4 linked regions of the Homo sapiens genome follow. The protein of the gene in region 3 purifies or fractionates together with the protein of the main gene of each other region. This does not show direct contact. Each region holds a gene or a part of one and is shown on either strand. Other genes may lie near its edges. The genes, in order: ARCN1, NUDCD1, COPG2 and COPZ1.

Evidence for each region.
Region 1: the proteins of COPG2 (region 3) and ARCN1 purify together in Homo sapiens (affinity purification with western blotting; 2 studies listed by BioGRID and IntAct, with this or other methods). This does not show direct contact.
Region 2: the proteins of COPG2 (region 3) and NUDCD1 purify together in Homo sapiens (co-immunoprecipitation; 3 studies listed by BioGRID and IntAct, with this or other methods). This does not show direct contact.
Region 4: the proteins of COPG2 (region 3) and COPZ1 fractionate together in Homo sapiens (co-fractionation; 5 studies listed by BioGRID and IntAct, with this or other methods). This does not show direct contact.

The regions. Positions count from the first base shown.
Region 1 is NC_000011.10:118,596,392-118,603,418, forward strand, and holds the end of ARCN1 (coatomer subunit delta), read left to right. Parts: intron 1-1,315; coding exon 1,316-1,520; intron 1,521-4,233; coding exon 4,234-4,323; 3' UTR 4,324-6,642; downstream 6,643-7,027. UniProt on the Homo sapiens protein: Component of the coatomer, a cytosolic protein complex that binds to dilysine motifs and reversibly associates with Golgi non-clathrin-coated vesicles, which further mediate biosynthetic protein transport from the ER, via the Golgi up to the trans Golgi network.
Region 2 is NC_000008.11:109,289,083-109,296,109, reverse strand, and holds part of NUDCD1 (nudC domain-containing protein 1), read left to right. Parts: intron 1-2,585; coding exon 2,586-2,766; intron 2,767-6,176; coding exon 6,177-6,359; intron 6,360-7,027.
Region 3 is NC_000007.14:130,665,732-130,672,656, forward strand, and holds the start of COPG2 (coatomer subunit gamma-2), read right to left. Parts: upstream 3,018-6,925; 5' UTR 2,938-3,017; coding exon 2,901-2,937; intron 1,804-2,900; coding exon 1,751-1,803; intron 1,199-1,750; coding exon 1,118-1,198; intron 1-1,117. Other genes in the region: TSGA13 (testis-specific gene 13 protein), read right to left, coding at 3,283-3,452, 5,930-6,057. UniProt on the Homo sapiens protein: The coatomer is a cytosolic protein complex that binds to dilysine motifs and reversibly associates with Golgi non-clathrin-coated vesicles, which further mediate biosynthetic protein transport from the ER, via the Golgi up to the trans Golgi network.
Region 4 is NC_000012.12:54,328,131-54,335,157, forward strand, and holds part of COPZ1 (coatomer subunit zeta-1), read left to right. Parts: intron 1-7,027. UniProt on the Homo sapiens protein: The coatomer is a cytosolic protein complex that binds to dilysine motifs and reversibly associates with Golgi non-clathrin-coated vesicles, which further mediate biosynthetic protein transport from the ER, via the Golgi up to the trans Golgi network.

The sequences.
Region 1 (7,027 bases), on a different chromosome or scaffold from region 3:
GTTTCCTGTATTCTAGTTCAGTTTTGCAATGGTCTCCAGAAGAGACCCTTACACAACATTTTACTCCCGTTGTCTAGAACTGATCAAATTAGAAGAGATCAGAATCAGAATTAGAGCAAGGGCACAGAGAAGGAACATAAAAGAACCAGGACCCTGAAATTGATAGGGAAGAGTTAATAGTCTTATGCCACCCTTAAAGTTTACTTTGTCTCCCTTATTTACCCTATCCCTAATATAAACATTGAGTGTCACTGGTGAATTAAAAGCTGGTAAATTTAGAATGTGTAGGAGTAGGTGACACTGCCTGTCAGCCGTGTGTAGGGGTGCAGAGTAAATCTTAACTAGCCCTGCTTCTCTCGCAGATTAAGGACAACTACGGATCTGTTTCTCCCATCATGTTTCCATTTTGCCCCAGGGGTAATTGTGCTTTCACTTATCAAATAAAAGTCCATTTACTGGATTGTAAATCAAATAAACCCATTGGTGTCAACTTCAATAAGTTTGAAACATTCTGAAATCTTTAAAAACAAATTCTCGGCCGGGTGCGGTGGCTCATGCCTGTAATCTCAGCACTTTGGGAGGCCGAGGCAAGTGGATCACGGGGTCAGGAGATGAGACCATCCTGGCCCGCATGGTGAAACCCCGCCTCTACTAAAAATACAAAAATTAGCTGGGCGTGGCGGCACACGCCTGTAGTCCCAGCAACTTGGGAGGCTGAGGCAGGAGAATCGCTTGAACTGGGGAGGCGGAGGTTGCAGTGAGCTGAGATCACGCCACTGTACTCCAGCCTGGCGACAGAGCAAGACTCTGTCTCAAAAAACAAATGAACAAGAAAACAAATTCTCTCAAAGGCCTCCATTCATCTCCACTATTGATGTTTAGAGTTTTCCCCCACTATTATCAATCTGCTTGTTTCCCCATTGTCTCCTATAAAGAGTGCTACATTATGTTAAAATTCCTTATTTATAGGGCAGCAACCTATTGGTGCAGGGTTTTTGGAAACATAGCCATCTTAACACATCTGTTGGTCGCAGTCCCCAGATCTAGTCCTTAAGTTGGAGCAGCCCATAGGCATATCTGCCAAATACCTATTTTTGCATATTAACTATATCTACAGAGGGAATTGAGTGAAACTCTTAGCCCAAGGTGCTAGGACTTCATCGTTTGATCCTTGAAGTTATTAGCCTTTTTTTCCCCTGAAATTGTAGTCCTAGAAGGCAAAATTTGGGGATCATATATCAAATTTGGGGTTGGTTTTCCGTGGTGGAGTTCTAGCTCTGAACAGCTACCTTGACCAGAATGTTTCTCACAACAGGTCTGGTGTCGGCGCGCCTGTTATCGGTGAGATCGATGGGGAGTATCGACATGACAGTCGACGAAATACCCTGGAGTGGTGCCTGCCTGTGATTGATGCCAAAAATAAGAGTGGCAGCCTGGAGTTTAGCATTGCTGGGCAGCCCAATGACTTCTTCCCTGTTCAAGTTTCCTTTGTCTCCAAGAAAAATTACTGTAACATACAGGTACTCCATTTTAGTTGAGAACATATATAGGGAAAGTGGTAGGACAGTAGGAACACGTATAGGATGCCAGACAGGTAGCATGGCTTTTTGTGGTCAGATAAAGCTCAGAAAAAAACTGATGTCTCCTACAGGAATTCCCTTTCTAATTCATTGTATGATCGTGGTCAAATTCTTTTATTGCTTTACCTCAGTTTTCCTCTCTAGATCAGACAAAGTAAAGAAATGGAATGTTAATACAGATAAAAGTACTTGTGGATTATGCAAGATTCATAAACACTTAGTTGCCTGTTTTTTTTTAACCTTATATATTTTAAAGTCGATTTGCCAAAACACCCCAACACATGGTTTTTTTAAGGCCTTGCTGTCACTTGATTTATACCCAAAGAATGAAATTGTTTTATTTAGAAGACAAAATTACTACAAAAAAAAAATCCATTCTATTACAAATGGAAATTATTTGAGGGTTATTTATGTCACAGCTCCCTTTATTAGTACAAATAATCATGAGCCAATTCTGTTGCAAACTCTGTCCTTTAGGTAGGCAAAGCAATGGAGATGTGTGAGCTGTTCCTTCGGATTTTTTTTTTTTTTTTTTTTTTTGAGATGGAGTTTTGCTCTTTTCACCCAGGCTGGAGTGCAATGGCGCGCTGTCAGCTCACCGCAACCTCCGCCTCCCAGGTTCAAACAATTCTCTTGCCTCAGCCTCCCAAGTAGCTGGAAATACAGGAATGCGCCACCATGCCCTGCTAATTTTTGTATATTTGGTAGAGACGGGGTTTCTCCATGTTGGTCAGGCTGGTCTTGAACTCCCGACCTCAGGTGATCTACCCGCCTCAGCCTCCCAAAGTGATGGGATTACAAGTGTGAGCCACAGTGCCCAATGGATTTTTTTCCTTTTTTTCTGAGACGGAGTCTTGCTCTGTTGCCCAGGCTGGAGTGCAGTGACATGATCTCGGCCCACTGCAACCTCTGCCTCCCGGGTTCAAGCAATTCTGTCTCAGCCTCCCCAGTAGCTGAGATTACATGCGCCTGCCACCATGCCTGGCTAATTTTTGTATTTTTAGTAGAGACAGGGTTTCACCATATCGGTCAGGCTGGTCTCGAAATCCTGACCTGAGGTGATCCGCCCACCTCAGCCTCCCAAAGTGCTGAGATTACAGGCGTGAACTACCACGCCTGGCGGATTTTTTTTTTTTTTAAGACGGAGTTTCACTCTTGTTGCCCAGGCTGGAGTGCAATGGCGTGATGTTGGTTCACTGCAACCTCTGCCTCCCAGGTTCAAGCGATTCTCCTGCCTCATCCTCCTGAGTAGCTGGGACTACCGGCATGCGCCACCACGCCTGTCTGATTTTTGTATTTTTAGTAAAGACGGTATTTCACCATGTTGGCCAGGCTGGTCTCAAACTCTTGACCTCGTGATCCAGCCACCTCGGCCTCCCAAAGTGCTAGGATTACAGGCGCGAGTCACCGCGCTCGGCCCGGATCATTATTTTTTAACTCATCATTCTTCCAGTTTTTATTGTTGTTGTTGTTTTGAGACGGAGTCTTGCTCTGTCACCAAGGCTGGAGTGCAGTGCGATCTCAGCTCACTGCAGCCTCTGCCTCCCAGGTTCAAGTGATTCTCCTGCCTCAGCCTCCCAAGTAGCTGGGACTACAGGCGTGTACTGCCACACCCAGCTAATTTTTTTTTGTATTTTTAGTAGAGATGGGGTTTCACCATGTTGGCCAGGCTGGTCTCTAACTCCTGACCTCAGATGATCCGCCCACCTCGGCTTCCCAAAGTGCTGGGATTACAGGAGTGAGCTTCCACGTCTGGCTGTTCTTCCAGTTTTTTAATTTGCATTACTAGGACCCAGTTTATATTATTAATATTCCCCTCTTTTTGACTTGCTTGTTGTTCTGGCCCTACCTTAGCTTCCCATATGGTCTCCGTCTCCCCTGTAAATGCTTAGAAAATTGCAGCTTCCTCCCTTGAATGATTCCAAAGAGCAGTTCTCTCTCCCTATCCTGTTAGTGACATAACCCCATCAGTGTTGGAAGCAACTGTATTGAACTCAAGACATTAGATAGAAATGGGTAAATTTTCCTATTGGGGCTATTCAAAGATTAGGACATTATAATTGCTCTCCCAAAACTTCATTAGAAAATACGAATCAGTGGTTCAAGTGTTGTATTGGTGCCGTTATAGGTACCATTGTTACATGTAATTAATTAAGCTGGACATTTATTTATTTAAAAAGGAAAAACCTCATTGGACCAGCCATGCCTAAAAAATAAGTATGATAGAGCAGCTTACTGGGACTTTTAACACGAGACTTTGAGAGCAGAGCAAATGAATAATGTGAAGAGCTAGAACGTTGCCTTTTGGGTCAGAATGTTAATATATCATCCTGATAGAATGTCTATGAATTTCATAGGTTATACAGGGCAGGGCTGGGCTGTGGCCACTCATTTTGGAGCTTTTACTTAATACTACGGAACATCTCGTCCCAACAGTTGTCTTTTCTCCATCTAGAAGAAAAGCAGCTTAATCATTTTGGTGGGGAAGAGTGATGCTGTGACTTTCAGTTGTGAATTGAACATTTTTCTAGTATTTTACAGTTACTTTTAATACCGCTTTTAGGGAAATTGATATGTTCTGTAATGAGAATGTAGTCAACATGATGGAGACTCAAACCTCCTGCTTTACCTTACTCTTTGTTTATTTTCCTAGGTTACCAAAGTGACCCAGGTAGATGGAAACAGCCCCGTCAGGTTTTCCACAGAGACCACTTTCCTAGTGGATAAGTATGAAATTCTGTAATACCAAGAAGAGGGAGCTGAAAAGGAAAATTTTCAGATTAATAAAGAAGACGCCAATGATGGCTGAAGAGTTTTTCCCAGATTTACAAGCCACTGGAGACCCCTTTTTTCTGATACAATGCACGATTCTCTGCGCGCAAGGACCCTCGACTCACCCCCATGTTTCAGTGTCACAGAGACATTCTTTGATAAGGAAATGGCACAAACATAAAGGGAAAGGCTGCTAATTTTCTTTGGCAGATTGTATTGGCCAGCAGGAAAGCAAGCTCTCCAGAGAATGCCCCCAGTTAAATACCTCCTCTACCTTTACCTAAGTTGCTCCTTTATTTTTATTTTATTATTATTATTATTATTATTATTATTTTTTGAGATGGAGTCTCACTTTGTAACCCAGGCTGGAATGCAATGGCATGATCTCAGCTCACTGCAACCTCCGCCTCCTGGGTTCAAGCAAGTCTCCTGCCTCAGCCTCCGAGTAGCTGGGACTACAGGTGCACGCCACCACGCCTGGCTAATTTTTTGTATTTTAGTAGAGACGGGGTTTCACCGTGTTGCCCAGGCTGGTCGCGAACTCCTGAGCTCAGGCAATCCGCCCACCTCAGCCTCCCAAAGTGTTGGGATTACAGGCATGAGCCACCATGCCCAGCTGCTCCTTTATTTTAATCCCTAAATATAATCCCTAAATATAGTTATATTTCATACTTAGTTTGTTTTTAAAAAGTTTTCTCTGTAGAAAATTTTAATCATTCATACCCTTTACCTTTAGGTTTTTCTTTCTATACATTCAGTCAGGCACTGGGATCATCTGTTTACAGGCATTATATTTATTTGGCACTCCTGGAACAAGTATATCTAACCCATTCTTGATTTTTGGACTATTCAGGTGAACTATTTGAGGGGTATGGGGTCTAGAAGTTAAAAGATACGCATGTCTTCTGTTCTTTTCCCGTATCAATTCATTCCTTCATCTCTTTGCCAAGTTGTTTTCCTTTCAGGGCCTGTCCTTCCAGTTTAGAACAGTACCATGAATCCCACTTGTGTCAATATTAAAGATAGCTGAGAAGCACCTTTCAAATGGCACAGTCCCTCTTCAAGATGTCTAAAAGAATGGTTATGTCTGTCCAGTTAGGGATTTCACATCCACATGTAATCATGTCTGCTGCTGTTGCTACCCAAATTTTCATTTCTCCACATTTTGGGTACTTAAGCTAAAACGTAATGGCCACAGTCTGTAATCCATTCACATTCCTCAGTTTCACCACCTCCCTCTTCCAGACTGCACTCTCTGTCATCAGTCCCCTCCTTTCTAACAGAAATGGGGTTATGATTTTGAAGGCTGTGGGTTCAGGGAGTCTTTGCCAATCCTGTTGGCCCTAAACTATCAAGGAGGCTCCATTTCACCATTTGATTTTTTGCATTTCAGGAGGCAACTGATTGTTTCGATATGTACATATTACTCACGTATACCCCATTTCCTTCCAGTCAGCCCAACATTTTCCACCAGTCTGTCCCCATCTCTGAAATCCTTCCTTCTCTTTCCCCCTAAGTCTTTTGAGTGTCATCATGTACTGGTGGTTTCTCGGTTCCATCTCATCCATTTCCTTTTCAATGGAGACTACAGCGTCAGCCAGCTCAGCCTTGGCTTTTAACTCAATATTCCAGTCCATAGGGGTGGTTAAAAGTTGCTGCAAGGCTGCAGGCACTGGCAGTGGGAAGAGGCAGACGACTAGATGACTTCTGCACTTTTAGCTGGTTGAAAAGTACCACTCCCACTCTGAACATCTGGCCGTCCCTGCAAAGAGTGTACTGTGCTTGAAGCAGAGCACTCACACATAAATGGCTGTGTGTGGAATTGCTTGCCAAAGAAGTTTCTAGCCTTTCCCTTTCCCCTAACTGCATCAGGGAAGAATTCTTATCTCTAGCTTGGTTTCCACATGAGGTTTTTCTGAGAAGGGCTTGGGACAAGAAGTCTGTCATGTTAGTTAAGCAGGCAAGAAATCCTACTAATCCAGTTTTGTTTGAAAGTTGTTTGTCCGTATGATTTTTTAAAAGTCAAGTTTAATTTCAAAAAACCTTTTTTTTCTGAGATTACTTTTGGGGTAATATTTAAAATGAGAGACATTTTGTAACCCTGTAAAATACATAGGGAATATAACATTCCAGTGTATACAAAGAAGGCAAATTCTTTAATCAAATAAAGCGCATTATAAAATGAGATGTTTATTGGATTATTGACTCACTTTGGTGTCTGCTTGTTGATTCAGGATGCTGTAATGGGACCTAACATTAAAAATTAATGACATGTTTTTTTTAAGAGAAAGTAATCTGTGAGAGTATTCATTGCCTTTTTCCATCTTATATGTATTGTGCTTCCTTGCGTATTTTTCTACATTTGATACATGCACTCCTGACAGTGTAGCTTTTGAATTTGATGCTACTTCTGGCCTTTTTGGGGATTGGAGTCTTAATTTTGTCAGACGGCAGTTGGAGAGTCAAAAAAGTCAGGCTTCATCTTTAATCTTGGAGTCTTGGAGTCTTCTCTTCCCCATTAGACCGTGATGAGAAGTGATCCAGGGATGAGGGATAATGGGAACAATTTTTGGGAACTGTTGATAATTCCCTCAGATAAACCTGCTTACTTTTTTTTTTTGAGATGGAGTCTCGCTTAGCTGCCCAGGTTGGAGTGTGGTGGTGCGATCTCAGCT
Region 2 (7,027 bases), on a different chromosome or scaffold from region 3:
AAGCATTGGCGTTGCCTCCTCCTTCTTGAAGAAGAGTTGACCAAAAGCTTATGTTAGGATGATTTTCTCCTCTGCCATTATGTTAGATTTGCTGGGATGTTTACATTGGTCAAATAGTAGTCAGATTACCAGAATATTCTCTACTTAGAAAAATACATGATATAAATATATAGTTATATGCCAATTTCCAAGACAACATTTTTACTTTAATTTTAAAAATTAGATATAAATCTAAAGGGTAGTTTAGGGTTTTAATAGTAATAAATAAGGAATTAATTTCTCTAGAACTACAGTTTTTGAAAACAGAAGAAAATGATGCCAAGTAGATAATCAAAAGATTTAGTTTACTGCTTCAGCTCCTTTGAGTTATGCTAATAAGTGTATTGTAATATTGCTACTGTCTGAATCTCTGTAGGTAGCCTTTAGTTCTGGGTAAATAAAGAGATGCGAGCTTAATATATTTATGTCTTATAAAATAATTTCATCTGACCAACAGATGCCTACAGAGACCAGGCTTTAATTACTTGAGAAAAACCAGTTAGGTCTTAGAACCAAATGGTTTACCTACCTTACTAAGTTATACTAAATGTTATACTACCAAATTATAGTATGTTCAAAATACACAGTAAATAACCAGAACAGCAGTAGCCTATTTACAAGAGCCTGTTGCATTCACAGTTTCAGATATTCATTGGATACTGTGGCAATTTCTGTTTTGGCCTTTAGTAACAACTTTCATTTTTCTGAAAAACAGAAGTAATGTGGTATGTAGCACAGCTACCTGAAACAGTTGGAAGGTATTTTGAGAATAATGCGCAGGAGAGATATGAGTGGGAATTTATCTGGTATTGAGCTGTATGGATTCTGTAGATTTTGAACAGGACAAACCTACTTGGCTCACTTTCATCTTAAAAATAATACCACACATTATTTCATATGGGCTTATACTTCTTTTGGTTTTGTTTTGTGTATCCCCTTGGCGTGTATTAAGACTTCAATAGTATCTTTTAAATAAATTTAAAAACTTAATTCTACCTTGTGCCTTCTTTAGCATATACTGCCCTAATGAAATAAGCTCCCTTCAGAGATGTTTTCAGCTAATAATAGTTTTGACTAGATACTGGTGGGAGAGGGAGGAGACTTGGGGATTAATTGAGGTGGGAGGGATACTGTGGAATATTGGTCACTTTAAGAAACAATTCAGGAGGGTTTTAGGACTTTAGGGTAATTAATATAACAGAGAAGCTAAAAGTAGAAGTGATTACGGAGCATGGTGGGGGGTAAGGGGGCCAAGGGTGGTGGTGGTGATTACTGAAGTTTAAAAAGAGAAATTAAAGGAGACAGCTTGCTTTCCAAATGTGTTGCCTCTAATACCATGGAAGTGCCATGTATCAACGGTATCACAGTTTAGATGCTGGGCTTGTTCAGAAAACTAGAAACTTCAGCCTAACAATTTTTAAAAGTACGCCATCTACTCTTCTGGTTTCATTACAGTTCCTTTCACTCATACTAGAAAGAAAAAAAGAAACAATAAACTAGCTACTTGTTCCTGCCAAAACTTGTCATTTTCTGTTCTTCCGTTTTGTTTCCCCTATTCCTCAAACAAAAGCAAAACCCAATCAACCAATAAAAACCTGCCTTCATCTGTCATCTCTGTTTTGAATATTTAAGGATTTTTTTTAAGCTTTTGTTTTTTCTGTTTATGGAAATCTTAAGAATGGATTCTGAAGGCCCATTACTTGAATGATTTTGGCAGATGTTCAAATACATAGGGAACTTGATGACATTAAAGCACATTTTTCTTTGTAAGGTTTTCAAGTAGAAGTAGATATGTGGGGATACCAGGTACAGGTTTTGTTTTTTGTTTTTTGTTTTTGTTTTTTAAAGCTACCTTTTTTTCAGTTAGGCTTTTTCTCAACTGTCCATATCTTATTTGGAAATCTTGTTTAGGAAGCAGCCTTAAAACCTTCTCTATTTTGTATTTAGTCTTAAAAATGTAATAGTTGTTGAGATCTTGTGTTTGTGGTATAAGAAAGAATTTGATAAGATTTTGTGTGTTTCTGTATGATGCTTAGACAAGATTTTGTGTGTTTTTATATGATGCTTTTTTGCTTTTCAAAAAACACTTTAGGATTATTTTAAATAGAGTTTGTTAACTTATTCTTAAATGCTAATAGGCTCTTTTGTTTTTGAGAAAAAACATGTTTTGGTGATTTATTCTTCAATGTTTTTGACTCTTGCCTTTGTAAACTTCCAGAGAATAAATAACAAACAAAAAACAGGAAAAAGGCATACACACATGCACACTCATATACAATATCTAGAAACTGAGAGGAAGCAAGGTAGCCAAGACTAATGATCAGTTTTTTTCTTATACAAATAAATATTTTCTTAAAAGTTCTGTCCTCAGGGAACATTATCTAAACTTGCAGTCTTTATGTAAAGGCCTTTTTATTTTCAAATTTCTTGTAATAAATAGTATCCAAAATAACTGTTGAATCACCAGAATCCTATATATTCCCTCTATGCTATCTGTGTTCATGTAATTATGTACACTTTTTTGTGTGTGTAATTTTGTTTTGTAGATTATGTTTAATGAAGAACTTGGGGATCCTTTTATTATAATTCACAGTATCTCACTGCTAAATGCTGAAGAACATTCTATAGCTACCCTACTTCTTCGAATAGAGAAAGAGGAATTGGATATGAAAGGAAGTGGTTTCTATGTTTCTCTGGAGTGGGTCACTATCAGTAAGAAAAATCAAGGTAAAACAAAAGTCTGAATCTGTCTCTACTGGTTGGCATTATTTAGTAGATTTTGAAACACAAAGCTGTCCCTGTAAATACTGTTTGCTCTTTCTTGGGCATTGTGTTACAATTCTGGCACCTGCCACCACTGGTGGAATGAATATGTATAGATAGTTTTTCCTCAGGTATATTTTATAGAAAAAAATTGCAGTGTGCATCCACAGCCAATTATGCCTTTTATATAAAAGAAGACATTGTTATATAAGTTTTGAATAATTTAACGGGTATATTTTTAATATATACAAAAATATATGCATATATATGTGTGATACACAGAAACATATACCTAAAACTAAATGTAAATTAATACATTATAGTATAATTTAAATGTAAATAAATATAAATACTTACTTGGAAATGAATGTCTTTATTTCATTAAAGTACAGGTATGATTTCTTTTAAATCTAATTGAACTTCATTATTTGTTTCTACATTTAGGAAAACTGTTACTTTTTCTTACCTGATGTGCTCCCATGTTTAGAATAGTCCTGAACTTTGGTCTGTTTGAAGCTGTCTGTCAAGCTTCTAACTTGACATTAAAAATTACAATCTCATGAATTAATTAGGATTTCTTTAAGGTATTAAGAAATCTCTTTGCCTTTGCTTAGTTCCTGCTGACTCATTGAGTGTTTTCTTTTTAACTGTAGTTGAGTACTGAGAGTGCTTGTTTCCATAATGACTCTATGCTCTTTTTCTCAGTAGTTTTTATTAGCTGACTCATTTATGAGTAAGTTAATATAAATTAAATTATCATTCATCTCTGTAGAAAAATATTTCTTTACCATAGCTGCTAGTTTGCAATTCAGTAAAGACTGTTAGTATTTGTTTCCTAAGAGGGTTTTGCCTTTTATTCTAAAACAGCTATCTGTCTATCTAATAGATATCTCAAAATTGTTTATAAATAAACTGAATAAGTCTCCTAGATTTGTTCTTTGAAGTATTCAATATAATTTATTAGTTCTTTTTGGTGTTGTAGTTTTATCTCTGGAGGAACACAGTAACTTTAAACTTTAATTAGATATTAGAAAACTTTTTTGAAATCCCAGTTGGTAACCATAAGATCTATGTCACAGCTATCCGAGTATGCCAACACAGTACAAAAGCATCCATAGACAATATATAAATGAATGAGTATAGTTGTGTTCCAATCATACTTTATGGACATAGGAATTTGAATTTTATGTTTTTTTGACATATATTTAAATATTATTCTTTAAATATTACTATTTTAACAATTTAAAAATATAAAATTCATGCTTAGCTCACAGGCCATACAAAAATAGGCCTAGATTCAGCTTTGGCTCAAGGGTCCTAGTTTGCAGAACCCCTGCTTTAGATAATGGAAGCCTTAATTTTTTTAAGGTACGTAATTCAAAATCTTACAGGAGACATTGTCATGCATATTCCTCCTCCTTTCTCCAAGACACTTGGTTCTGTAACATCTTTTTCTCAATCTGTGGTAACTCATCAAATTGCCTCAGAACATAGCAGTACTCTGCTCCAGCTCTACTTCTCCATCCCGTTTGTCTTCGTTTCTTTGCCTCAGCTGGACAAATACATTGAGACTAACCTTTTTTCTCCCAAGATTGTAGTTATAGAATCATTAATTCTCTTTATTGTTCCCTTTATCTTTCTTTTATATCTTGTTCCTTCTCTCCCAGACTACTACTAATATGATTGGTTTTTTTCTTCTTTTTCTTTTTAGTTAACAGAACAGTATTTTCGTAAACTATTTTGAATGAAACATTTCATAAAGTATATTTATGGTCAGATAAGTTTGAAAATGTGGACATAAAATAGCTCCATTACACATTAAGCATATTAAAGTTTCTAAAAATTGTGAGTAAAAAAAGTTTAGGTTAGATGCAAAGGCTCATGCCTGTAATCTCAGCACTTTGGGAGGTCAAAGCAGGAGGATCACTTGAGCCCAGGAGTTTGAGACCAGTCTGGGCAACATAGTGAGCCACCGTCTCTACAAAAATTACAGAAACATTAGCTCGGCATGGTGTTGTGCACCTATAGTTCCAGCTATTCAGGAGGATTGCTTGAGCCTGGGAGTTTGAGGCTACAGTGAGCAGTGATCGTGCCACTGCATTTAGCTTGGGCAACAGGGTAAGACCCTGTCTCAAACAAACAAAAAACAATTTACATTTAATTTTAACCTAGCATTTCTCCACATATTTAACCACGGAATCCGGTTTTTGAGGCTTCCTATTCTTTTCTGTCCCATGCATGCTGGGAAAGGCCACGCTATAAATATGTGATGTCGGTGTTTGGATCTTTAAAGTCAAGTAGGACTTTTGGCCCTGCATGTATCTATAGGGGAAGTGTAGGAGTTTTGTTCATTCATTAAATTACAAGCCTGTTCTTAAATATGTGTGAACTGAATGTGTGAATGTAGGTGAGGATTTTGAGTAAAAACAATGAGATATTTTAGAACAGATGGTATTATTATGTAAAAACTCATAATAATATGACATTAAGTTGTGATTTTCGACTACTCAGTATGAAGCCTACAAGTATAACCCACTTAAAGAGTAACAGTATAGGTAAAAGTATGGAGTCAGCTAAAATGTTTGAGTACTTTTTAAAGCAAAAAATTACTGTCTTTATAGGAAAATAAGTTTAATTTGTCAGAAACTTTTGGAATACAGTTAATTGTTTATATCTTAAAAGTAGCACTAATTTATGTTTAATTATAAGCATATAGATAAATGTCTTGTGTAAAAAAAATCATTTCTGCTATAAATTTATTTCATTGTTAAAATGCCCCTTATCGGGAGTTAGAGCAGGCAGAAAAATAGACCACACTGCATGTTTCCCCTTGTCCTCAATTTGTCACTTTTCAGAAGAAACTTATCACATACCTGCTGAGAAGGCAGACAGGCTTTAGTCAAGGAGAGGTAGGTCATACAGAAGCTGTTATTCCAAGTAAGCCGGTCATGTTGGAGTTCTGGGGTACTGCTGTCTAATAAGAGATTTCTCCAAGATGGACATGTTTTATATGTGTACCATTCACTGCAGTAGCTACTAGCCATGTGTGGCTATTGAGCAATTAAAATGTGGCTAGTATGACTGAGGAATTTAAATTTTACTTAATTTTAAGTAGATACTTCTGGCCAGTGACTACCACATTGGACAGGACAATCGGGAACAAATTTCACCAGACCCAATATTTTAAAATAGGGACTTATTTACGGAAAATTAGATTGTAAATTGTTTATCCTTATGAAAAGACTCTTAATAGTGTACCTTTTAATAATACATTCAAATTATTTAATTATAATTAAAATCAATTTTTAAATATCAGAATATTTTGATAATAGTTTTTATTTGTAATGTTTTGTTCTGAAATACTTTTCTTACAGATAATAAAAAATATGAAATTATTAAGCGTGATATTCTCCGTGGAAAGTCAGTGCCACATTATGCTGCTATTGAGCCTGATGGAAATGGTCTAATGATTGTATCCTACAAGTCTTTAACATTTGTTCAGGCTGGTCAAGATCTTGAAGAAAATATGGATGAAGACATATCAGAGAAAATCAAAGGTAATTTTTATTCTTAATAGAGCTTATTGGTATTTTCATAAACATATATTTATGTCTTTTATTTTCCCAGTTAGGTTAATAGTTCTACAAGGGCAAGATAGATGCATAATTTTTTCTTTATTTTCTCATGTATTTTCCAGAAGTCTTTTATAAGGTATACCACCTTAATAGTGTGAATGAACTGGTTTAATTTGATCATTTTGTTATTACCAAAAATGTTTTTTTAAAAAATCGTTTATTAGCTTCCTTGATTAGGTGCTTAATAAATAGTTATCAAATAAATGTCTATTTGCTATTAGTATTGATGGTATTAATAGTGTAATATTGAAGATACTAATTTTTAAAAATAAGTTAAGCTAATGTACCTGTTCTTACCTTTTATACTAAACTGAAAGTAAGTTCCTTGAGGGCAGAATCACATAATTTTATTAATGTTGAATGAATGAATGAAGGTTATGTTTTAGCATGAAAAGACTGGCCAGGCACGGCAGCTCACGCCTGTAATCCCAGCACTTTGGGAGGCCTAGGTGGGCGGATCAAAAGGTCAGGAGATCGAGACCATCCTGGCTGACACGATGAAACCCCGTCTCTACTAAAAATACAAAAAAAAATCCGGATGTGGTGGTGGGTGCCTGTAGTGCCAGCTACTTGGGAGGCTGAGGCAGGAG
Region 3 (6,925 bases):
CTGGAACCAATTCCCCACTGATACTGAGGGAATATGAATCCATGAAACAAAATCATATTTTCTAAGGCCCTAGACATTTCATGAGTTTTTTTTAAGTCTGGGGCAAAAAAAAAAAAAAGAAAAAGAAAAGAAAAATTAATAACAACAGCAGCAAGCAGAATCTACATTTCATGAGCGCAAATATTTTTGCTGGTTTGTCTGCTATATCCCCAACACCTAAAACAGTGCACAGCACACAGCAGCTACGCAATAAATATTTGCTGAATGACGGAAGGAAAACTATTCCTGAATGCTTACTGTATGTTCAGGACTATTCTCAGTGCTTTACACTAATTATCTCATTTAGTCATTACAACTCTGTAACAGGTATTATCATAATCCCCATGTAGAGAAAAGGACATCAAGGCACATAAAATGGTTAAGCTACTGCCCAGAATTATTCTGCTAGTAATGGTAGCATAGGGATAATAAATATAAAATCTGAATATTAACAATCAAAGCTTTAAAACATCATTACACACATAAAAAAGAAAATATCTGGAATTTGCCTGATCTTGCACTGTATTTTCAGAAAAACATGAAGATCTCCAAATACATGTAAACAACATGCTCTAACTAGTACTCATTAAATTGAAACCAAAGGATTTATTGAGAATCTACTATGCGCATCACTGGTTTAGGATCTCATGAATAAAAAGGAAGTATAGGTTAAACATCTCTAATCTCAAAATCCAAAATCTGAAATGCTCCAAAATCAGAAATTTTTTGAGTGCCAATATAACACTCAGTGGAGACACTCATCAGAGCATTCTGGATTTCAGATACTCAGATTAGCAATAGTCAGTGAGTATGTATTCTGCAAATATTCCAAAATCCAAAAAAATCTGAAATCCAAAACACTTCTGGTTCCGAGCATTGCAAAGAAGGTATACTCAACCTGTATATGTCATAGTCCTCGTACTCAAGTTTTACATATTATTTTGTTAACCAAACGTTGTATATGTTAAAATTAAGTGAATTTAAAATAAATAAATATACTTTCCAGAAAGTATTTCACTGAATCTTCAGTATTTCTATTCCAGGACACACTTATCTGAGGAAAATAAAAATAATATACCTGGTTCAGTAAGTAAAGAATCTTTGTAAGAATATGCAAACATCTTCTTGGATTGATTGGAGTTTCATTGAATATACGAGCCTATGAAAAAACATAAAAAACATTGCTACTTTTCTACCTTTTCTATCACAGATTATAGCAAATCAACTTTAATACAGACTATTTTTAATCACGGTATCCAAAGAACATTGTCTATAGTTCTCAATTTACTAAGGTATCTGATAAATTATTACACGTGGCCTTGATTTTCCATCCTATACTTTCTCATTCCCTTAGGTTGACTACTTCAACTTTATGGGCTATACCAGTTAAATAAGGATCACAATACTTATCTATATCATACTAATACAATGAGATTAATACAGATAACTGATTTCAATAACCTTGCACTAAACACCTGTTCTTACATTTAAAATTCCCAACCTGTGACAGTCTTCATGTCTTTGCATTTCTATAAGCTCCAAATTCTCCTGTGACAAGTAACCCCTCTTTCTTTTCCCTCAAATCTATATTCCCTAAACTCTGTTACGTTTCTTGTTTTGCATGTCGTGATCACAGCAGCCCAGGGATTCTCTGCCCACCACTCTAAAACAGAATAGAAAAGAAAGGGCACAAGATACTTCCCAGTCATACCTCCTGTAAAACAGCACTCTTCTCCAGATGCTGGAAAGGATTGGAGCCACTACCTATTTATAAAACAAAACAAAAAAATGTCCTGAACAGCTGTTCTACACAAACTTATATACTTTCCAGAGAAGGGTACTGAATGCTTGGGAAGTGAACACTTGGATGGCACAGTGATAATCATGGCTAATACGCATACGAACTGAATGAAATCATTTTGATCCCGGCTCTGTCACTGCCATACTCGAAGAGCTGAGACTTCTCTTTCGCAGCAACCCTCTCCAAAATGAGTGTCTTCTTTCCCTGCCCTCTTTTTCCATGAATGTTAAAAATGTGTCATTTCCACAACAACGAAGATTAATGAGATTGTAGTAGGGTGCTTTTGATTTCCTTAGGTAAGCAGTATTTTATGTGTTTCTAACACTTAAGGAGAGGCAGAAACGAAGTTTCCCAGAGAATCATGCAGGCGTAAAGGTGCAAGAGGCCATGGAGGTTGACTAACCCAACCCCCTCTCACACTGTGGGAGATGCTACCAAACACTGAGAATTTTTTTCTTTTTGAGGATGCTTGGCATCTTCCCCATTTGCTCTGGACCAAAGACGGGCATCAAGACGCAGGTCACTTCTGGACACCTGAGCATTCAACGAGCTGTGTCCCACGGGACAGTCTTGCCCCCGGGGACCTGGACAGAGCCGGTGACCCCAGGAAAACGATAAGGTACCAGGCACCTGAACGTTCCTCCACACACACCCTGTGCCGTCGACCCCAGCCCCGGGAACAGGGTGCTCCCACTAGGGGTCCGACCCTACCAGCACCCCTGGACGCGGAGACGCGCGCACGCCCTCGGCCCCCGCCGGAGGCCCGCGCGCAGGGGAGGAGGCGGCTCGGAGGGGCTGCGCCGCAAGAGGGGCGGGAACGGGGCGCGCGCGGGCGCCGGGGCGGGAGCGCGCGGCCCGAAGGGAGGCTCCGGCGCCCGGGGGAGGGGCTACGGGCAGGCCCCGGGCAGCCGCGAGGGGAGGGGAGGGGCCGGCTCCAGCTCCGGCCCCCTGGCACGGCGGCGCCCACGCCCCCAGCCCCGCCGGCCTGAAAGCAGGTGGCGGCGGGCGGGGGAAGGGGCGTCCCGCGGCTGAGGGTGGGCCTCGGAAGCCCCGCGCGTACCAGACTCCTCGTCCTTCTTGTCGAATTTTTTAATCATCTTGGACGACTTCCCAGCGCCCAGACCCACCGCAACCGTCCCAGGCGCCGCAGCCGGCGAGCGGAAGAGGCTGCAGGAAGGCCGGCCCCGCGCTCTCACGCCGGTTGGGCCGCCGCGCCTTCACTCGGGGCCAAGGCCCGCCCTCCCCGGCCGCCCTCGGCCCCCGGGACGCAGCCACGCCCCCTTCTCCTCTTGCGGCCCGCCGGAGACTTCGGCTCGACCCTCCCGGCTTGCGACCCGGGAGCCCACGCCCGCAGCAGCAGGAATGTGGTTTTATTTGGGTGGCGACTTCTGCGGACCCCTCAGTCTCAAGAGAGCGAGGCGGGAGGACTGAGGGGTCTGTGTTCACCCGATGACCGTGGCCTTTTTGATAATCCACTGCGGGGCCCTCCCGTTGCGGAAGGCGCTCTCCCCGGGCGCGGTTCTGGTGGGCATGTCTTCCAAGAGCGATGCGAGTGTCAGTGGTTCCCGAATCACTTTGGAAATTGGCCTTTCACTCGCTGACTTCTTGGAAGCTACGACAAAGCACAGGCACCCTGGTGAATGTGGCTTTTCAGAAGTACTCGAAGGATACTTAATGTGAGATGTAAAGGAGACGCACTTGGAGGGACCAGAGGCTGGTCTTTAGAGGGTAGATTTTGGACCGTGTAATACCATTCCCAACCTATTTTATAATTTTTGGATTCCTTCATTTCATCAAAACCCAGTGGAAAATTCATTGCCAGTTTAGAGTCTTCCTTGTTCAAGCCTATTTCTTTCAATGATTCCATCTGAAACCATATTGACACTTAAGAAACTCACTAAATTAACGTGCATTCATTCCTAACTCATGTTCCTCTTTTTCTCAGAGTGTATGCTGGCTTTCTGTTCTCTTGTCTAAGAGTGTAGCTAAGAAACTTTGTCTGCCTTTGGCTTCACTGGCATAACTTGTTTAGAAATGTAAATTGGGTCTATACTCAACAGGATCGTGCCCCTGCAAAATTAGAGAAATTCTAACCTAGATTACATTCTACATCCTAGAGAAATTCTTTCCCTGAAATACAGATTTAAGATGAACTGTTGATATCCTACATATGGTATCATTTAAGATTTAACTCCGACTTGACTAAATGTACTATTAACTACTATGTTTGCTTTATATGGCTTGTAAAGGTCAAGTCATACTTTGTAGGTGGAGTTTTCTTTGAAGGAAATAGAAGTCTGCACTCATTTATTCTGGGGGTGAAAATAAACAGGCTTTGGGGAAGGAAACATCCTCTTCCTCTTCCTTGGCCCAAGGGTATTGGGAACCTAGGCAGAGACAGTGTAGATAATAGGCCCAGAGGTTCTCAAGGTGGGTAATGCCCCGGAGACCTGCTGAGAAGTAGAAGGACCTGAGTTCAGATTTGGGGCTGACCCTAAGACTAGCCCCTTGTAAAGCAAGATCAATCATTCTCTGCTGTTCTTCAGCTTTTCTGTATATCTATGAAGTTTTGTTTAATACCACAGGTTGTTTTTAGCTGTGCAGTATTTACGGAGTTAAGAGCATCAGTAGGTGGAAATGGGATGGGATGTGGTGGCAGATAGGTATAGCAGGAGCAGAGAAGCCTGAAGAAGCCAGTTAAGGGATGGTATAATATGACCCCAGGCCTTCGGTATCAGGACTATTTGGACTGAGGATGGCTGGCAGACGGGTTGAGCAATCACTGCAATGGCTTTGTGGGACAGGCAAGGATACCTTAGGGAGTCTCAGGAATTGTTTGAGGAGAGAAACCCAGTAGGAGAAATGGACCTTATCTTAAAACCATGAGCTGGTGAAGTCTGAGGACCCACCAATTATATATATCTAATACACAAATGTGTACTCAGTGCCCTGAAATTCTTCATTGGGTCCAAACTGCCTACTGGATAAAACCCAAACCTTTATTTAAATAATATTTAAGGCATTGTGGTATTTTCGATTTCTTGTTATTGTTGTTTGTTTGTTTTTCAGACAGGGTCTCACTCTGTTACCCAGGCTGGAGTGCAATGGCATAATCACAGCTAACTGCAACCTTGAACTCCTAGGTTCAAGCAATCCTCCTTCCTCAAGCCCCCCAAGTAGCTCAGACTACAGGTGCATGCCGCCACACCCTGTTAAATTTTTTTAAATTATTTTTTGTAGAGACAGGATCTCACTATGTTGCCCAGGCTAGTGTCAAGCCCCTGGCCTCCAGCAATCCTCCTGCCCCAGCCTCCCAAACTGCTAGGATTACGGACACGCCCAGCCTGTCAAGGCCTTTTATGATCTGTTTCATCTCTTTCACATATTGAAAGTGATATTGTTGGTGCTTGGTAAGTGTCAGACACTTAGTAGGAACCCTTGAAATACTGTTAAATAAATGATAATATGTGAGGAGGATTCTCATTGTACCCTCTGCCATACAACCTTATTCCAAGCCCCTTCTACCCCATTCCCTACCCCAATCCCAGAGACTTTTGTACCTCTAAGACACACAGACTTATCCTTTGGCCCTTTTAGAGCAGTTTTTTCTTCAAAGTATAATATGCATACCACTGGGTGGTTCTAGGTGGTACATAGATAAACATTTTAAAATTTCATTATTATAAATTTGATATAAGTGTTTCAGAAAAGCATATAATTTGTACATCAAAACCATGATATCAATGATATAGTATTAATTAGGACAAGATTTTTTAAAAATCCTTTTAAAAAATGCTAAGTAAATTAACAGCAAATAATACATCAATATGGCAAAAACTATTAAAGTGCTGGGTGATATAGCTTAGTAAACACTGCTAGAGCTTTCTTGAAATTTGAGGATTTAAACAGGGTCCAGAGCTTTGCACCTTTTGAGCCTCTATTTGTTGTTAACTTCCATGCTATAGGGAAAAATAGTCTCCAGGACTACCACGAGAGAAGCCAGTTTGCCACATCTATAATCCTCATGGATTGTATCTCCAGCCCAAATCTCAGTCCAGTAAGCCTTTGCTTTGAAAGAGAGGAGCTTACCATCTTTCCTCATATCTCTCTCATGGACTGGAGCAAAGGTGAGCTGAGGGTACATTTTCTTCTGTGTCCTCAAAGCGTAGACTTTTGAATACTTCCCTTCGCTCTTGAAATCATTGTCAGTGGAAAACCTTAACAAAGAAAGTTCTTTGTTTAGTAGATCCTAGGGCAGGGGGATTCATGGAACTATTCACTTTATTTTATTTTATTTTATTTTATTTTATTTTATTTTATTTTATGTATTTATTTTGAGACACAAGTCTTGTTCTGTCACCCAAGCTGGAGTGCAGTGGCATGATCTTGGTTCACTGCAACCTCTGCCTCCCAGGTTCAAGCGATTCTCCTGCCTCAGCCTCCCAAGTAGCTGGGATTACAGGCACTTGCCACCACGCCTGGCTAATTTTTGTATTTTTAGTAGAGACGGTTTTCACCATGTTGGCCAGGCTGGTCTCGAACTCCTGAGCTCAAGTGATCTGCCCACCTTGGCCTCCTGAAGTGCTGGGATTACAGGCATGAGACACCGCGCCCAGCCCCACCATTCACTTTAAAGTTGGCTACATTCTCAGAGAAGACAAGACAATGATAGGAGCCTGTTGATTGGTGCCAAGTAGGAATATTGTTCCGTGACAAGGGATGCTTCTGAACTTAACACTGTAAACCTTTGGAGGAACTCCAGAATCTCTTCTGTCCTCTCTAAACTACACATAGGCTGCTCTTGTAAGTAGTTTCACATAAAACCTCTTTTGTCTAATGTGTTCTCATAGCACATGGTTCCTGTGATATAGCGCCTAACTTGTATTGAGGGTACTTTTTTTTTTTTCCTGTTTCTTCAAAGCACAGACCTTGGAATATTTCCCCTCAATCTTGAAACCATTGCCAGTGCAAAACCTTAGTTTTGCATGACTGTTTCTCTTTGATTCATGTGTCAATGAGGTTAGGGTCATGTAGGGAAAGTCGTGTCTTACTATCTTTGTACGACCAAAGAATATGTCATTAAAT
Region 4 (7,027 bases), on a different chromosome or scaffold from region 3:
CTGGGCGTGGTGGCACGAGCCTATAGTCCCAACTACTCAGGAGGCTGAGGCAGGAGAATCACTTGAGCCAGGGAGGCAGAGGTTGCAGTGAGCCGAGATCGCGCCACTGCACTCCAGCCCAGGCGACAGTGTTAGACTCCATCTCAAAAAAAAAAAAAAGGCCGGGCACGGTGGCTCACGCCTGTAAATCCAGCACTTTGGGAGGCCGAGGTGGGCGGATCACGAGGTCAGGAGTTGGAGACCAGCCTGACCAACATGGTGAAACCCGGTCTCTGCTAAAAATACAAAACTTAGCTGGGCGTGGCCACGCCTGTAATCCCAGCTACTCAGGAAGCTGAGGCAAGAGAATCACTTGAACCTGGGAGGCAGAGGTCGCGGTGAGCCGAGATGCGCCACTGCACTCCAGCCTGGGTGACAGAGCAAGGCTCTGTCTCAGAAAAGTTAAAGAAAAAGAAAGTCTCTCTGTCACATTTCTCTTCCCTTAGTTCTCTGTCTCTGCTTCTTCAGTGAAGTCTGTTTCAGCCTGCTTCTTCCTTATTCTTTTGCTTTAATCTATGCCTAATAGGCTGCATTCACAGATCCCTGCTAACTTGATCAGGTAACCCTGGACTTTGCTTTTAAAACCACACTGGTTCTTTGTTATGGGAAACCTATGTAATGCGGTTAGGGACAATCTGATCAAAGCATATTCTTCTGTCCTTAACTCTACAAGGTACATACATAGCTGCAGGATGTCGAGAAAAAGGGACAGGTAAGCTACAGGGGGTCAAGAAGAACTGTTGATCAAAGTTTGCATTGATTGTGGAATTTCTAAATAACAGTAAGTTCCCTTCTTTTAGGTACTTTACAGTGGGTCACATGGTCACATTTCTTTCTTGAATTAAGTAATCCAGCTCTAGCTTTCAAGCAGATTTGTCTAATCTCTCTCAGGTCTCCTTAGGCTCTAAGGAAAGAGACCCTTTCATCTCTTTTAGTTCCCAATGCTTAATAATAGTGATCTCAGCCTGCATCTTTGGACTTGGCTTCTTCTCTCTTGCTGTATCTGCTGGTTCTCGCTTTTTGAGTTGTGAATGAAGAGGATCTCTGCAGATCACCATTCTCCATTAATAACCTGTGGAATCTTAAAGATAAGGATTTCCCCTTCCTCCTTCCTGCTTTACTTTTTTTCTTTAAAGCTGAATTACTCGGGCCGGGCTCGGTGGCTCACACCTGTAATCCTGAGGTGAGTGGATCACCTGAGGTCAGGAGTTCAAGACCAGCCTGACCAACATGGTGAAACCCGTCTCTGCTAAAAATACAAAAATTAGCTGGGCGTGGTGGCATGCGCTTGTAATCCCCAGCTACACGGGAGACTGAGGCAGGAGAATCGCTTGAACCTGGGAGGCGGAGGTTGCAGTGAGCCGAGGGCCATTGCACTCCAGCCTGGGCAAAAAGTGAAACTCTGTCTTAAAAAACAAACAAAACTGAATTCTGTATCGGTTTAGATCTTTAAATCTTTGTTCATAGGTTTTATTTTTCCTAATCCTCTCTGGATTCACTTTCAGAGTGCTTCTCCAGTGCTTTACAGACTAGACTTCTAATTCTGTACTTTGTCTTACCTTAATATTTTAAAACCATAACCAAATCCTAAATTCTAAGCCTCATTAAAAAATCAGGCCATCCAAAGTGCACAAGGATATGAGTATGTATGGAGGAGGAAACTATGCAGAATATGTCAATGACTTTAAAGGTTGATGTTGCTCCTTGGCCTTTGCTTCCTGAATCATCTTAATGGGGCTTTTGTTAAATTCCTTTGGCCCTAACAGTAGAGGTACTTGGCCTAAATGCCCCCCTCCCCCTGCTCTGGGCAAAGGTATCAATTACATTAAGCCCCTAAAGCACTCCCATCTCGTTCCTGGCAGTCCCCTGTGCCCCTCTCCCAGCTGCGTCCTTGCTGGTGCCTGGCCCCCTCCATTTTGTTAGGAGAAGCAATCTCCTCATTCCTGCGCTGTGGAGATATATTTCTCAGCTAGGGCGCGAGCAGTGCCAGCACTGCCCCCGGTGAGGTCCCTGGCAGCAATAAAAATTTTTATTGTGATTATGTTGGTGTCGGGGTGTCCATCTGGGTTATTGCACACCTAGTTTAATTGATTGAAGTTTAATTTATTGACACTTCAAATTAAATGATCAGAATAAACTGTGCTGTTACTCTGGCCAGCTTGTTTTAATGGTTGATTGCTGGAAGCAGACCTCGGCTTGAACTAAAACCCCCAAAGAGCAATTGACGCTGCTTCTAACTCTCCCCATGTCTTGCCCTCCAAGAAGACCTTGTTATAGATTTCCGACGTATTTATATATATTTTTTCCCTCTTCTTCACAGTGGTGGGAAAGAGTTGGTCCCTGGCAAGGTATAAATTATATCAAAGATCTAGGGGAGCTGTCACATGGTCAGAAGAGGAGGAGGGGGCCTCCATGTGAGGAAAACCAGACCCTTGAGAAGCCAGGTCTGCCTTGGGAGGCAGAGGATGAGTGCAATTATCCAGGTATTTGACGGAGCCTAGTGGCAGGTTTAGGGTCTTTTTTATCTAGATACTTGCTGCTGTTTCTTACTTTACTCCATTGACATGGCTTGATTAGAGTCTGGATGTTGACAAGAAAACAGGTTGTGGAAAGGGAAACTAGAGGAGCAAATCAGATGGAGCAGGGATAAAGAATCAGTACCTATGTACCCACTTGTGCTGGAGTAATTAGGAAGAGGAAAGGCAGAGTGCCCAGGGGACAGCTGATGAAGATGGATTCAGAGAATGAGTCCATGCACTTGTAAGATGCTTGTGCTGGCAAGGGCCCTCTCACATTCTGTCCCTCCTGTTTTTGGGCAGAATAGGTTTCCTTACATCAGATTATTAGGGGGATCTCTCCTGGCCTTACATTCCCTAGCCTGTGTCACCTCTTCTGGTGTTTGACCACACCCATCTCTTCAGGAAGTCCTTCCTGTTGTGTAATCTAAGTTATATATGCTGCAGATGAAGCCTGCTTTTTTATTTGGCTTTTTATTTTCACACTCTTTTTTTTTTTTTTTTTTTTTTTTGAGACAGAGTCTTGCTCTTGTTGCCCAGGCTAGAGTGCAATGGCATGATCTTGGCTCACCGCAACCTTTGCCTTCCAGGTTCAAGCGATTCTCCTTCCTCCGCCTCCCGAGTAGTTGGGATTACAGGCCCCCACCACCATGCCTGGCTAATTTTTGTATTTTTAGTAGAGACGGGGTTTCGCCATGTTGGCCAAGCTGGCCTCGAACTCCTGACCTTGTGATCCACATGCCTTGGCCTCCCAAAGTGCTGGGATTACAGGTGTGAGCCACTGCGCCCGGCCTATTTTCTCACTCTCAATGCAGATATCCCATCCATAGCCAATTGCCCTGGATAGCTCGGTCAACTAATTTTCTGCAACTCCTTTTCTGTTGTGTGGTTTTAGAGGGAGACTAAAACCAGAGGAGAATAGAGCAATTCTGCCTCGGGGTTGATTTGGGGGCATAAATAGACTGAAAGATAACACAGAGTCTGTCAATTCAGTCTCTCAGAGACTAGCTTTTTGTTTTCAGGAGCAAAAGCAGGGAGATGTGGGGGGGAGTAAAGGGATAAATCATGATACAAATCGTGACCCAGGACTCATCAGGAATGGATCTAGCCCCTTTTGATTTTTTTCCTTTGCTGAGTGTTATTTAAGTGAGGGCTCCTGGATTACCAAACTGAGAAGGCAGAATGTTCTAATGGTGCTCTCAGGCCTCAGGTCTGGAGTATAGTCTGATTTCTCCTTATTCAGTTCATCTCTCTTCCCAGCAGTACTGCTTTGTCCCTCATTTCTGTGATTCTTTCACTTCCATGATAGTTGAAGAATTAGGGACTATGTGACCCCTGGGTAAAAAATCCTCCAGCAAGGCCGGGCGCGGTGGCTCACGCCTGTAATCCAGCACTTTGGGAGGCCGAGGCGGGCGGATCACGAGGTCAGGAGTTTGAGACCAGCCTGACCAACATGGTGAAACCCGTCTCTACCAAAAATACAAAAATTAGCCGGTCATGGTGTCACGCGCCTGTAATCCCAGCTACTCAGGAGGCTGAGGCAGGAGAATGGCGTGAACCCGGGAGGCGGAGGTTGCAGTGAGCCACTGCACTCCAGCTTGGGCGACAGAGTGAGACTCCGTCTCAAAAAAAAAAAATTTTCCAACAGACAGGCTTTCTGAGTTTTGAGAAAGGTCCTGAGACTTTGCATTCCTAAAAAGCTTAGGGTTTGGTTGTCTTTGTCCTGCCCATTTCACAGTCATCAAATTCAGCCATTGAAAGCTGGAGGTGGCTGGGCATGGTAGCTCACGCGTGTAATCCCAGCACTTTGGGAGGCTGAGGCAGGCGGATCACCTGAGGTCAGGAGTTCGAGACCAGCCTTACCAACATGGCAAAGCCCTGTCTACTAAAAACACAAAATTAGCCAGGTGTGGTGGTGGGTGCCTGTAATGCCAGCTATTTGAGAGGCTGAGGCAGGAGAATCGCTTGAACCTGGGAGGTGGAGGTTGCAGTGAGCTGAGATTGCACCATTGCACTCCAGCCTGGGCAACAAGAATGAAACTCAGTCTTAAAAAAAAAAAGGGAAAAAAAAAAAGAAAGCTGGAGGGAGCGTGGTTGCTGACCTTTATTCCCCCTGCTGGCTGTTAGTTTTCTCAATCATATTTATTAATTTATGAAGGCCACACACACATTTATTGAATTTATCCAGCATTACTGGATGCCAGGTAGAGTAGAGGGGGTGGTTTACAAAAGTATCACTCATTTCCCCTCTTTTTCCTGCCCCCTCCACACCATCTTATTATCTCCAGAGAGAATCTCATTTAATTCTAAACTCGGCTCTGTGAACTCTTTGAAATCATAAAAAAATTATTTTTATTTATATATATATTTTTTGAGACAGAGTCTTGCTCTGTCATCCAGGCTGGAGTGCAGTGGTGCGATGATCTTGGCTCACTGCAATCTCCATCTCCGGGGTTTAAGCAATTCTCATGCCTCAGCCTCCTGAATAGCTGGGATTACAGGCATGCACCACCATGCCCAGCTAATTTTTTTGTATTTTTAGTAGAGACAGGGTTTCGCCATGTTGCCCAGGCTGGCCTCAAACTCCTGAGCTCAAGCTATTTGTCCCCACATTGGCCTCCCAAAGTGCTGGTATTACAGGTAGGAACCAGCATGCCTAGCCATGAAATCATAAAAAAATTTGTGAATGTATTTTGCTGGGAATAAGGTCCATAGATGTAATTGGTTTATCAAAGGGGTCTGCTGTAACTCAAAAAAGGCATTAACCTTAACTGATCTAGGTCAAGCCTCTCATTTCTCTGATGAAGAAGCTGAATCTCAGAGAAAGGGAAAATTTGAGTTAATGGCTGATCCCCATTATAGTACAAGTATTGTAGCCAGGCATGGTGGTGCATGCCTGTAGTCCTAGCTATTTGGAAGGCTGAGGCAGGACTCCTTGAGCCCAGGAGTTCAGGTCCAGCCTGGGCAACATAGCAAGACCCTGTCTCTATTTAAGAGATGGATTGTAGGAGTTTAGAGACATTTTCTCCTGTAATATCAAAACTCTTGTTGACTGTGCTTTACATGTTTTGGGTCTGTGTCAGATAGGAAGATTGTAGGTGTCTCTTCCTGCCGTCAGTTCTTCCCGAGTCATGTGTTGAGTTTTTTCTTTATAACCAATATTTGGTCTCATGTCAGCTGGGTAGTGTTCTGTGGTACCAGTGGCTCCCACTCTTTCCTGAGCTGTGCTTTTTGAATCTAATCTTGTGTGTATACAGAAATAATTAGCAGGGTGTGGTGGCATGTACCTGTAGTCAGCTACTTGGGAGGCTGAACGGGGAGGATCGCTTGAGCCTGGGAGGTTGAGGCTGCAGTGAGCTGTGATGGCACCACTGCACTCCAGCCTGGGTGACAAGAAATAATAATAATATTAATAAATCTGATATAGGCTGGGCGTGGTGGCTCATGCCTGTAATCCTAGCACTTTGGGAGGTCAAGGTGGGCAGATCACCTGAGGTCAGGAGTTCGAGACCAGCTTGGCCAACATGGCGAAACCCCGTCTCTACAAAAAACACAAAAATAAGCCAGGCTACAAAAAACACAAAAATAAGCCGGGCGTGGTGGGAAGCGCCTGTAATCCCAGCTGCCTGAGAGGCTGAGGCAGGAGAATTGCTGGAACCCGAGAGGCAGAGGCTGCAGTGAGCCAAGATCACGCCACTGCACTTCAGCCTGGGCAACAGAGCAACACTGTCTCAAAAAAAAAAATCTGATATGTAAAAACTGCTCTTCCCTGTCAAAGACTTTAGCTAATTCTTCTTTTCTTTTCATCTGAAGTCTATCGGATTGTGGCTGGCAAATTGGAGCCCTTAACCCCAGAGGAGCTTTTAATTTTAAAAAAGTTGGCACAGGCTGGGCACGGTGGCTCATGCCTGTAATCCCAGCACTTTGGGAGGATGAGGCGGGTGGATCATGAGGTCAGGATATCTAGACCATCCTGGCTAACACGGTGAAACCCCGTCTCTACTAAAAAAAATACAAAAGAATTAGCTGGTCGTAGTGGTGGGTGCCTGTAGTCCCAGCCACTCGGGAGGCTGAGGCAGGAGAATGGCGTGAACCCGGGAGGCAGAGCTTGCAGCGAGCCGAGATCAGACCACTGCACTTCAGCCTGGGCGACAGGGTGAGACTCCGTCTCAAAAAAATAAAAAAATAAATAAAAGTTGGCACAGAGGCCAGGTGCAGTGGCTCACACCTGTAATATTAGCATGTTGGGAGGCCGAGACAGGCAGATTGCCTGAGTTCAGGAGTTCAGGACCAGCCTGGGCAAGATGGTGAAACTCCATCTCTACTAAAATAAAAAAAATCAGCTGGGCATGGTGGCAGTCACCTGTAATCCCAGCTACTGAGGAGGCTGAGACACGAGAATTGCTGGAACCCAGGAGGCGGAGGTTGCAGTGAGCCAAGATTGTGCCACTGCACCCCAGCCTGGACAACAA